Regions from separate parts of the Homo sapiens genome. Here region 2 is linked to region 1. Evidence: fine-mapped expression QTL. A gene starts in region 1. The other region holds a variant in brackets. All regions are shown on one strand. Distances are between the middles of the regions.

What was found. PIP is the estimated chance that this variant, and not a neighbour inherited with it, causes the effect. A credible set is the group of variants that fine-mapping cannot tell apart.
Region 2: its variant is the best candidate, but not a certain one, in a credible set for the expression of PBXIP1 in whole blood (TOPMed, PIP 0.54).

The regions. Positions count from the first base shown.
Region 1 is chr1:154,953,609-154,958,948 of GRCh38, forward strand. It overlaps PBXIP1 (PBX homeobox interacting protein 1), which reads right to left and starts at 2,491. Exons shown (of 11, transcript NM_020524.4): 1 at 2,461-2,491; 2 at 63-149. The coding sequence starts at 113. PYGO2 (pygopus family PHD finger 2) reads right to left here. Exons shown (of 3, transcript NM_138300.4): 3 at 3,418-5,340. The coding sequence ends at 5,171.
Region 2 is chr1:154,842,643-154,848,005 of GRCh38, forward strand. The region is part of intron 1 of KCNN3 (potassium calcium-activated channel subfamily N member 3); the gene reads right to left. Among named protein-coding and RNA genes, the nearest start is that of KCNN3, 25 kb to the right of the region's middle. RefSeq lists enhancers at 2,763-2,822, 3,143-3,202. The variant T/C (reference allele first, on the strand shown) is at 2,302.

The DNA.
Region 1 (5,340 bases):
CCCAGCACTGCAGAAACACCCCCCAACCCCACCCCCATGGTTCCCAGGCCCGCTCTTCCTACCTCGGAGCCAGCAAGCACCCAGCTATTATCAGAGTCTGGGCAGGAGGCCATAGTTGCTGAGGTCCCTGAGGCTGCTGTGGCTGCCACCTGCAGAAGAAAGCTCTCTTAAGGATGGGAGCTCCCTTCAGGAGGGGCAGAATGCAGAAAGCAGCCTTGGCTGGGTTCCAAGGTTCAAGTGCTGGGCAGCAGCCTCCAGAACCAAGCCTGGTTCCAGTCCTTCTCTCCCTGACACCCCAGCTCTTCTAAGCAGTATTTGCCTTGCAAATCAGAATCTGCCAACACCCACAGAGAAGCCAGCCTCTTCCAGGGACCAACAGGGCCTTGGAAAACTGAACTGACCTTGAAAGGTCAAAGTAGCATAGGCTGGAAAGGCTCTGGGGAATTCCAGTCCAGCCCCCTGACATTTGAGTCAGGGAAGATGAAGCCCAGCAAGGTTGACAGACTCAACTTGCCAATAAGAAGACTTGTTAATAAGAAGAGCAGGGAAACAACACAGCCCTCCCTTCACAACACCAGGTACCTACACAATCACTACCTTCTCCCCCAGGACCTGGAAGGGAAGACTCAATGGCCTCCTTCAGCCCTAAGTGTCCCACCACTTGCCCAGCATAAGTCCTTGGTATGGTCTAGTTCAGTGGTTCTCAATCTTGGCTGCACATTGGAATCACCTAAGATTTTGATTCAATTGAGTTGGGGGGTAGGCCCGGCTGTGGGTCTTTTAAAAAACCACTCAAATGATTCTCATGCGCAGCCAGGGTTAAGAGCCACTGGCATAGCTTAGATCCACCTGGATGCACCTTTTATAAGTCTCCTCATCACTCTCAGTCTTCATCCTAAATTCTGTTTACCTTCTTAGTAATCGCCAGAGTTTGGTCTTAGGGAACTTGAAGGTGACTGGGAAAATGGATTTATGGCAACTATCATGTATATATACATCACTTTATAGCTTGCAAAAAATAGACAAAAATCAGGGCTATGGTCCTGCACCCGGTTAATCTGCTCTGACTTGACAGGGATAGGGGAGGGAATCACTCCAGTTTCCAAAGCCTGACTGACACAAAGCAGGGTAAGAAGAGAGGGATCCGCCCCTTCATCCAAGGCTAAAACAGTTCCCTCAGGCAGCTCCTGTTGGGACCAGGCATAAAGGTGGAAGGATAGATGAGCTGACCTCTCAAGAGTACTGGATTGTGATCCCTCAGAACAGGATAAATGACTGCTTCCCGAGCACTTTATAAGAAAACTCAGGAAAAGGGAAGTGAGGCTGGGAGAGTATGGCAGTTCTACCTTTGAAACCAACCACATTATCCCCTTCTGTTTGAGCTGTTTTCAAGTCCTGCGTGGTGCCCTAAGTAACCTCCTGTGGCTCCTGCCAGTCAAGATCCAAGTCCTGGATAGGTCTTTCCCAATGCCCATCCTCCCAGACACATGCACCCATTCCACACGGAGACAGGAGAATGGCTGCAATGACCTCCCTGTACCAAATCCAACAGGACACCCTGGCATGCATCTGTAAGTATCCATAGAGCCATGGCTGTTCAGCCTTCCGCTTGTGGCTCCACCCCCGCCCTTGTTATCATCTCCCCATCCCCAGTTGCTGACTGTTAACAGGTGGTGGCAGGAAGGAAGTGGCAGCAGCTTGGGCTGAAGTCCCTGTTTATCCCTAGCTGTGTGTGCAGCCTGCTCAGGTCCTCTAGAACCAGGCACCATGGCAACCACAGTGATGTCAGACCCACTGTCTCCATGGAAACCAGCAAAGGTATTTGGGTCAACAAAACAAATACTTATGAGACCCAAATAGGAGACACTCTGAAACTCCTATACTCTGGGTTCCAAACCCTGATACCTCTTTCTTGGTTAGGTTAACCCAGGGTTCAAAAAAACACCTCTTCTCCCAAGCCAGCATCTCACTGCCTTATTAGGAAGTTCCTTCTGCTGTCTAATCTCCACCCTTCCCTGCTGTGTTTCCAGATCTTTTTCTTTTCATCGACCTTCTGGAAGAAAACCCACCTCCACTCCCTCCCTCCACCCCCTTCTTTTCATTCAGGCAGGATTCAACAAACACCTCCTGTAAGGATTATGACAGAGACTTCTGCTATTTCTAAAAAACAGCTAAAGGGGGAGCTCTCCCACTCAGCATAAAGCTAGGAAGTCTCGCCTCTAGTTAATTTAAACTCCTCTAACAGTTGCTCCTCCAAACCGCTAAAGCAAAGGATCTAGGGCCACTTGCCTGGGGTACCCAGAGCAAGTTCCTGTTGTGTTAGCGTCGGCACCTGGCCTTCCTCCCCCAGCCCAGAAATGAAAAGCAGCTCATTCCTTCTAGATTAGTTCCGCCTTCCCTTTTCCTTATTCCACCCCCTTCAAAGCGAATCTGTGGACCCCTTCCCAGCTAAGGCATTACCTGAACCAGCTCTTGCTTCGGTCTTCAGCTTAACTTGTTGCAGGCTTCCCTTTGTTTGCAGCCCGAGAAGAAAATCATGTGACCAGAAACTGACCAATGAAAAGTCAACTTCCCCAAGGGGGCGGAAACTTTTGGCCAATAAGAGCAGGAATTGAGAGCCAGGGGAGGGGAAGGGAGGTCTAGCGACACGGCCCTAAACCTGGGCTTACCTCCTGGTGGGCGACCGGGGTCCCAGCTAACCGAATCCTGAGTTTCCTGCCCTTCTTTCCCAGTGTCTAAACAGTTTCTAGAGGGAACCCCCACAAACTGAGAGAAAAGCAGACGGTGCCGTCTTCTGAGATGACGAAGACAAGGGGCCAGGTTGGCCCCAGGATAGACAGAGACAGCTGTGAGATGGGGGAAGGGAGAGGGACAGGTCGCAAATCCAGGGTGTGGAAATAGCCCTCCTGCCATTCTCCCCAATCTGCTCCAAAACAGACTGCTTAAAAGATGCCATTGCTACTTTAAAAAACGGTTGGGGGACGGGAACGATCTGAAAAACATCCCAAAATGAAATTTGCTAGGACAGAAGCAGCCCCTCCCCTCACCCTTAGAGCGACACTTGCTCCCTAACCCAAACAACTGGGAGGTGGGTGGGGTGCTAAACCCAGAAGAGCTCAAGCACTTGTCTTCCAGAGGCTGTGGTGCCAAATCCGCCTGGCTCCAGGCCTGGCCCAGGAATATGCTCAAAAAGGAAACTCAGTTTCTCACAGTGGAGACACAGGGGGATGGGCGGGGAAACACAGGCCTCCCTTGGCTCAGCAGCTTATACCAGGGTCAGCTCAGGGGCCAAATCTGCCATTCCCACTCCCAGGGACCCTGGGGAGCATACATATCCTCAACCCCTAAGCACCCTACCCAGCAGTGACAGCGGCTCATTCCAGCCTTTTCACACAGCAACAGCAAGGAGTCCTTGTCTGGGATTTTAAAATCATTTTATTAATCCAACAGTACAAAAGACCCCCACCACCACCGCATTCTGCCATCACTTTGTTCCAAAAAGTAGTGGAGTGAGAGAGCGAGAGGGAGCAGATCCAGCAAAAACACTCCCCCAGGGGCCATTTTACAAAATGCGGAGCAGGGGAAGACAACACAAAAACAGCAACAGATAAATGGGGCAAACAGAACAACAAACACAAGAGTTGAGCAGCGGGGTGGGGGTGGGGGGTTGCCATCTACGCCGTTTTAGTGTGAGGGACACTGGGAACGATGCCCAGAGGCTGCTCTCCTCCCAGCCTCAAAGGTTGTCAGCTCCACCAGAGCAGGGTCTTCTCTCCTCATGCCAGGAACTGAGAGAAGTGGGGGTAGGGGACCACTAGGTCTTTGCCACTGTATCTTGAGCTGGGGGACTCCTAACTTCTCCGAGGGCCACACCCCATGCCTGCCTTCCCCACCCCATGGAGGAATGTGTGCATGAACAGAAAAGGAGAACGAGCAGCGCTAAGGTCCTCATCAGGCCCCAGGCCCATCTCTGGCAGGCAGTGCTTAAAAAATAAAAAAAGACAAATAAAGCCCAGTGCAGGCCTTTGGCTGAGAGGAATGAGAATTGCTAATTAATCACCAGGCCCAAGAGGATATGAAAGAATAGCAAAGAGAAGCAACAAACTCCAGGCTCTTCTACCTTTGAGTACCATGGCAATGAGGATCCCGCCGCATCCCCTACCCACAGGCTGTGACAGGGCCTCACTTGGATCCTTTTATCATGGAGGAAATGAGGTATAGGGCTCTGCGCCTTTTCAAGCTTTCCTTCAATCAAGCCAGGAAGGCAGGGGAATAAGGGCGCCGAAAGTTGAAGAACACACGGAGTATAATGTGCAACAGATGGGCTGGGGGAGGAGGGTACCACCAAAGTCCAGACTTTCAGGACAGCCCAAACTTCAAATATTCTGGTCTGTCAGATAACATATCCCAATTTTTGGCAAAAATATGGTCATTAGGAGAAAAGCACGAGAGAGGCTGAGAAAGGACCAGTGACTTTGGTATGAAGAAGATACGTCCTGACAGCATCTCTCACCTACTGTCTTGAAGCCCCAAATCACCAAGAAACTGCCATAACCAGGAACTCTCCTGCTTCCTCAGGCTATTTGGTTCTCTGAGGGGGAAGGAGTTGGGTAAGTCTTGGAGGAAGCAAAGGAGTGGGTAGAAAAAGGGGAAAATCCCCATTTATTCCCTAAAGCTGTCTCCCAGAGCCCATAAAAGGGCTATTGCAGGGATGGCAAGACCCCAATTCCTCTGGCCAGAAACCTTTAACACTTGACTCCAAAAACTAAGGCTGGAGCTGTGGGGTTCAGTAGGGGTGTTAGGCACAGGTGTTAGGGGCATCCATCATCAGCAGAGGGAACACCCCTGCCCTCCGGATCTTCCTCCAGCCCCTTTTCTCTTGCAGCCACACTCCTGGGCCTCCAGAAATAGCCACAAAATGGCTCTGCTCAGCAGGGCTTTGGTTTCCTGGATCTCTGTAGATCTCAACATGTAAGTTTCCCAAAACAGTGAGCAATCCAGGCTCTTCTGCCTGCCCACCTCAATTCCTTTTCTGCTCCCAGGAGCCACTGTTTCTGCCCCATGGGGATGGAAAGCCAGTGGAAACAAGGACCAAGAGCCAAACATCAAAAAAATCACCCTGGAAGAGCAGGGAGAGACATGTGCACTTCCCTGGGCCACTTCACCAGCGTCACCCATCGTTAGCAGCCACCAGCTGCCCCATGCCCTCACGGATGTAGACAGACTGGATCTCCTTGGTCTTGAGGCAGAGATCGCAGGCCCAGACGGCAGAAGCTTCAGTGGTCAGCAGCCCATAGGCGCTCTCAGTCATGCCTGTGCACTCACGGTGGAACCATTTCT
Region 2 (5,363 bases), 110 kb before region 1:
ACCACCTCCTCTGTGAGCTTTCCCCGGCCCTCCCTGACATAATTAAATGCTCAGTGCTACTTCTGTGCCTGGTTCCAACCTCTCCCCTTGCATATATTACACTACACTGTGCTCACCATCTGTTTACACTGCTGTTACCATCAGGGCCTCAAGGGAAGAGTCCGGTTTGACTCAACAGAGGCAGCAAAGCATCACGGTCTGCAGAAGGGGCTTTGGAGTCCGAAGACCTCACTTAGAGCCCCACTTTGCCACTTCCTCGCCATGTGACCAAGCCTCAACTTACTCATCTATAAAATGGGGCAGTAAGAGTAGTGACCTCATAAAGTTGTCATACACATTACATGAGATGACACGTGTAAATAAGTGGCTTAGCGAAGGACCTGACACTTATAATAGGAGCTCAATAAATGACAGCTATGAGTGCCTTCATATCTCTGACACCTAGGGCCTAGCACAAGCCCAGCCCATAGACATAGATGCTGAAGAAGTATGTTGAAATAAGCTGAACCCCAGCCTGTTTGTAGCCTTGACGGTCTGCTTGGCCTCTCCAGGAGCTAGATATGGTCCCTGCCCCTCCCACCTCCCAACCAGGGCTGGCTCCCTGCATCCATCCACCCTGCAGAACAGTTCCCCTCCCCAGAACAAGAAGCTGCCCCATCCAGGTTCTAGACAAAAAAGCCAGCTGCCTGGCTCTCCACAGCTGGTTCCCAGCGTCCCTTCAGCTTGAGAGCCCACATCCCCGGGCTTCCAGGCAGCACCCACTGAGCTCAAGCCTCAAGTATCCTCAGTCCCAGCCTCAGCCCTCATCAAATATTTTTTTTAATAGAGATGGGGTCTGGCTATGTTGTCCTGGCCTCAAGCAAGTCTCCCACCTCGGCCTCCCAAAGTGCAGGGATTACAAGTGTGAGCCACTGCGCCCGGCCCCTCATCAAATCTGAAGTCCCAAGGTTAGCGAGTATGCAGGGAGGCTGGGAGAGAAAAGCAAGAGGCCCCTTACAGCAGAGGCTGAAACCTTTTAAAGCAACAGTGAGAAACGCTGAGAGAGAAACCAGGCGGGGTAGGTGGGGAGTTCTCTCCCGGAGACTCCTTCTCACCCTTGCTTCCCACAGAACCCAAGAAAAAGGCACTTGGCAATAGTTACAATTCCAGACGGCACTTAACGAAGTCCAATGCCTCAGCAAGACAGACGTTTGGAGAAATAATGACCCAGGGGACTTTCAGGGAAGGCTGTCTGGACATGGAGGGGCGGCTGTGAGATTTAATGAAGCCAGTTCTACACAAGAGTCCAGCACAGGGTGCGGTGCCCCTGCCTCGGTGACTGCCCCGAAAGTAGGAGGGGGGGCTGCACAGCCAGGCCACAAAGGGCAGACACCAGGCCAGCAGGGGAAGGCCAAAGAACACACCCTCGGGACCAGCAGGGGCTTGCAGAAGGGGACTCCACCCAAGGGAGCAAATGAATGTCCCCCGTTACACACAGATCTGGGCAGACGCCCTCACCCTCACTCCTTCCCCTCCCCAACCCTCCTCCAGCCCCTCCATTATGCAAATCAAGTGACTACACAGATTTGCATAATTCATGCATTATTAGTACGCGTTCTTGTCAGGCTTTTAGACTTTATAAAGCAATTTTGCTACCTTTAATGGAGAGTAAGAGACAAGGTTCTAGAGAGAGATTTTCTGTCCTTCTTTCATTAGACATGAAAACAGTCTCTAAATCTTAAGCCAGGGAGAGAGTCAGACAGAAATGAAGTGACTTAGAGTTGGAAACATGACCAAACACCTCGTTGACACTTGGTGTCAAAGGCCTGGGTGCCGGGCATCGCGCCGGTCACACATCCTGTCAGGCCTCTCAGGCACTCAGACCATGGAGTAGTCCCCAGTGGGGCAGACGTTATTATTGGGAAGTCACTCCAGGTTCCTGGGAGACTCAGTAACAACAAAACCCCCACTCTGGGTTTGTATCGCTTTTTTATATTTTACAAAGGGCTTTCGCTCTGCTATCTTACTCAGCGCCCACAATAAGGCTATCGGGTTGGAAGGGCCACATTTTTACCCTCATTTTAGACATGAGGAAACTAGGGGGCCAGTTGCAGTGGCTCATGCCTGTAATCCCAGCACTTTGGGAGGCTGAGGCGGGTGGATCACCTGAGGTCAGGAGTTCAAGACCAGCCTGACCAACATAGTGAAACCCCGCCTCTACTAAAAACACAAAAATTAGCTGGGCATGGTGGCGGGCACCTGTAGTCTCAGCTACTTGGGAAGCTGAGGTGGGAAGATGGCTTGAGCCCAGGAGGTGGAGGT[T/C]GCAGTGAACTGAAATTGTGCCACTGCCCTCCAGCCTAGGCAACACAGCCAGACCCCGTCTCAAAAAACAAAAAAAAGAGAGAGAAAAAAAACTGGGGCCACTCACCTAAGATCAAATCTAGGCTCTCTGTATTTTTTCCACTACACCAGGGATGGCAAACCCCTTGCCACTCTTCCATTTCCCCTGCCCAAGATAGACCTCATGAATCAATCAGGGCACTCTTCCCATTGAGCTCAGACAACACCTCAGAATCCTTCCCAACACAGCCCTCCTGGAAGCTGGTACCAATTGTTTCAACTTGACACCCAGATAAAACCTATTTGCTGTTCCTGCACTGTATCCTGCCAACTCCTCAGCATCCAGCCAACACTGTGACAGTGCCACCAGTTTCTGGGAAGTGCCTGTGGGCTAAGCTTAGCCTGGCTGCTCAGCCCCAGGAGCCCCAGACAGCCACCATCAGCCAGCTCACCGGCTCCAAATGGAACCAGATGCACCTGCATTTGGGAGCAGATCAGGGAGAGTGACTCCTACACCCCCGGGCCCAAGAGGTCTCTGCTTTTCTCACTGCGGGGGCCCCACTACCCAGGACCACTGAGGCCACCTTGACTAATGCACACCTGCTTCCCACACAGCAGGAGCCAAAGGTGTCTGCTTCTGCAACGGACGCAGCATTGCTGTGTGGCATGGGGCCCTGCAAGGGGTTCAGTCAGGGAAGGGGCCACATGACCAGACCACCCCCGCAAACACACACACACACTTCCCTAGGGCCGTGCCCCAGCCAGTCCCAAGGGCACACGTCCTTCCCTTGTACACATGCGGAGCCTCCTCCTCTAGACAGATCCTTCTGCATGGGCCCCTTCCACAACCCTGCAAGGAAACTTGTTTAGTAAATAATAGTAATAAAACCCTAAAAGTGCTCATTTTGATCCTCACGCACATGCTTGTTGTCCAGGCTAGAGAAATGTGAATCCTGCCTTCCCCAACGCCCTACCAGCCCCCAAGCCCATAGGGCAGCCCTGGCTCCTTTCCTACCCTTGTCAAGAGGCCAGTCCCCTTTGGAAGATGGCAAGCAGCCTGCCGGTCCAAAACAGTGGGGTGGCACAGCACCCACACCAGCCAACACCAGCTGGCAGCGGCTGCCCTGGCTGGGGGGCTTTCCTTCTGGAACCCATCAGCGCTGGCTTCCTGCCAGGCCCAAGGGAGATGAAGTACACCCTCTTCCTGACCACGTCTAAAGGGCCTAGACGATGCCTCTCCCAGCCAGAACCCACAGCAGTTACCTCCACTCTCTTGCCTTACCCTTACTTCACAGTGTGGCACCCTCCCCTTCCTGGTCTCCTGAGCCCCAAATCCATGCTGCTATTGCAATCATCAATGGGCTTATTCTCCAAATCATCGCTGGCTTCTTCTGCCAGGCCTTGCTGAGTTCCTTCCTGATATTTACAGCCCCCGAGGCTCCTTTCTGGAGGACGATTAGGCAGCAGCATACTGAGGGGGAGCCAGGAGCGTCTGCCCCCCGGGAGGAGGAGTGTTTTATCACTGACCTTGTTTAGAAGTGCCGGTACACAGCAATAACAAAAACCAGACTTTTTGTTGGCTTTATTTATTTTTCTATATCCTCTACAGACAGTGTACCCCTCATTGTCTGCACCGGGAGCCGATTGCTCCCCTGCCCCTTGGTACCCTACTGCCATTGGGTGTCTGCAGCCAGTTTCCATGGGGCTGGGTCAGATTTCAGATGAACGAGTGAAAGAATACACAAAATTGAGCAGAGAAAGCACTGGCTCCAGAAGCTCCACTTCTCGCTGTACTCCACAGTTGGGGTAATCAAGGCCTTTGGGGACTGCCCTCTAGGGATTTACTGTGCTTACTAGAGGAGGAATGAAGGTTTATTCAGCACTCTCAGGCCCTGGTGCTGTGTATCCATCTAGACCTATCACTATGTTGTGAGGTAGGCATTAGAGCGGCCCCCAAGGCCAACCTCCCATCACCACCACCCACACATGGATGTGACCAAAGCAGGCACCGGACTCGGAGTCTTCCTGCTAGTAAGCGGCAGAGCCAGGAGTTGAGCCGGCTCCGCCTGACCCCTCACCCCCCTCCCTGAGCCCTGGGCTCCTCCCAGGCCTGCCTCCCTGAATCCTGTCTGCCCCCTCCCCTGCCTGCCCTCACTTGTCCGCCAAGCATCTACCAGGGCCCCTGTGTGCCAGGCACGTGCTGCTGCTTTCACATCCCTCATCTCCTGGAACCCTCCTCACTACCCCCCCCTGCCCTCGGGGAGCCTGCACATCTCTCCAGGCCACACCGAGAGGGAAGGGGCAGAGCCAGCGTGAATATCAGGTCACTGGCCCCAGATCCAGGGCTCTTTCCTCTCTGGAGCCTGAGCTGGGCCGGCACCCAGCTGGATCCCTGGGCAGAGGCCCAGCCAGCCAATGGGAAATGCCATCACGGAGGAAGGCACCGAGGACCACGGGGAGTCACCAATGACACAAGCAAAGCCAGAGGCTGGGCTGGCCATGCTGACCCAAGACCCCGCTCTCCTGATGCCACACTGGGGTTGCCTGCAGGGAGGCTGGTGTCTTGAAAAGTTGACTCTGAGATAGATATTATAGTAAGGGTCATTTATGTGAACCACATGATTAGAAGTCCCTAGATTTCTTCTGAATATCCTAGGATTTTCCCCAGCCCCTCAAAGCCAACACGCCCAAGATAGAATTCACCATTCCAACTGCTTCCCAAGTCTTCAACTCCTTTAAAGGCAAGGAGGTCTTGCCTCTCCCCACCCATCAAGTCAAGTCCATCATCATATCTTGACAATTAAAAACAGAGGCCATTTATTGAGCTAAGAACATGACACCTGCGTAATTACACCTGTGTGATGCCCTTACAGCCACCCGTGGGCCAAGCATCATAATGCCCACTTTACAAACACAGACACTGAAGTTCAGGGAGACCAGGCAACTTGCCCAACTGCACAGCCAGTCACTCCCCCAGCTCCGACACGAACCCGAGAGTAGCCGGCTCCAGCACGCTGCTGCTGTCCTCCATACCTACTCCTCCC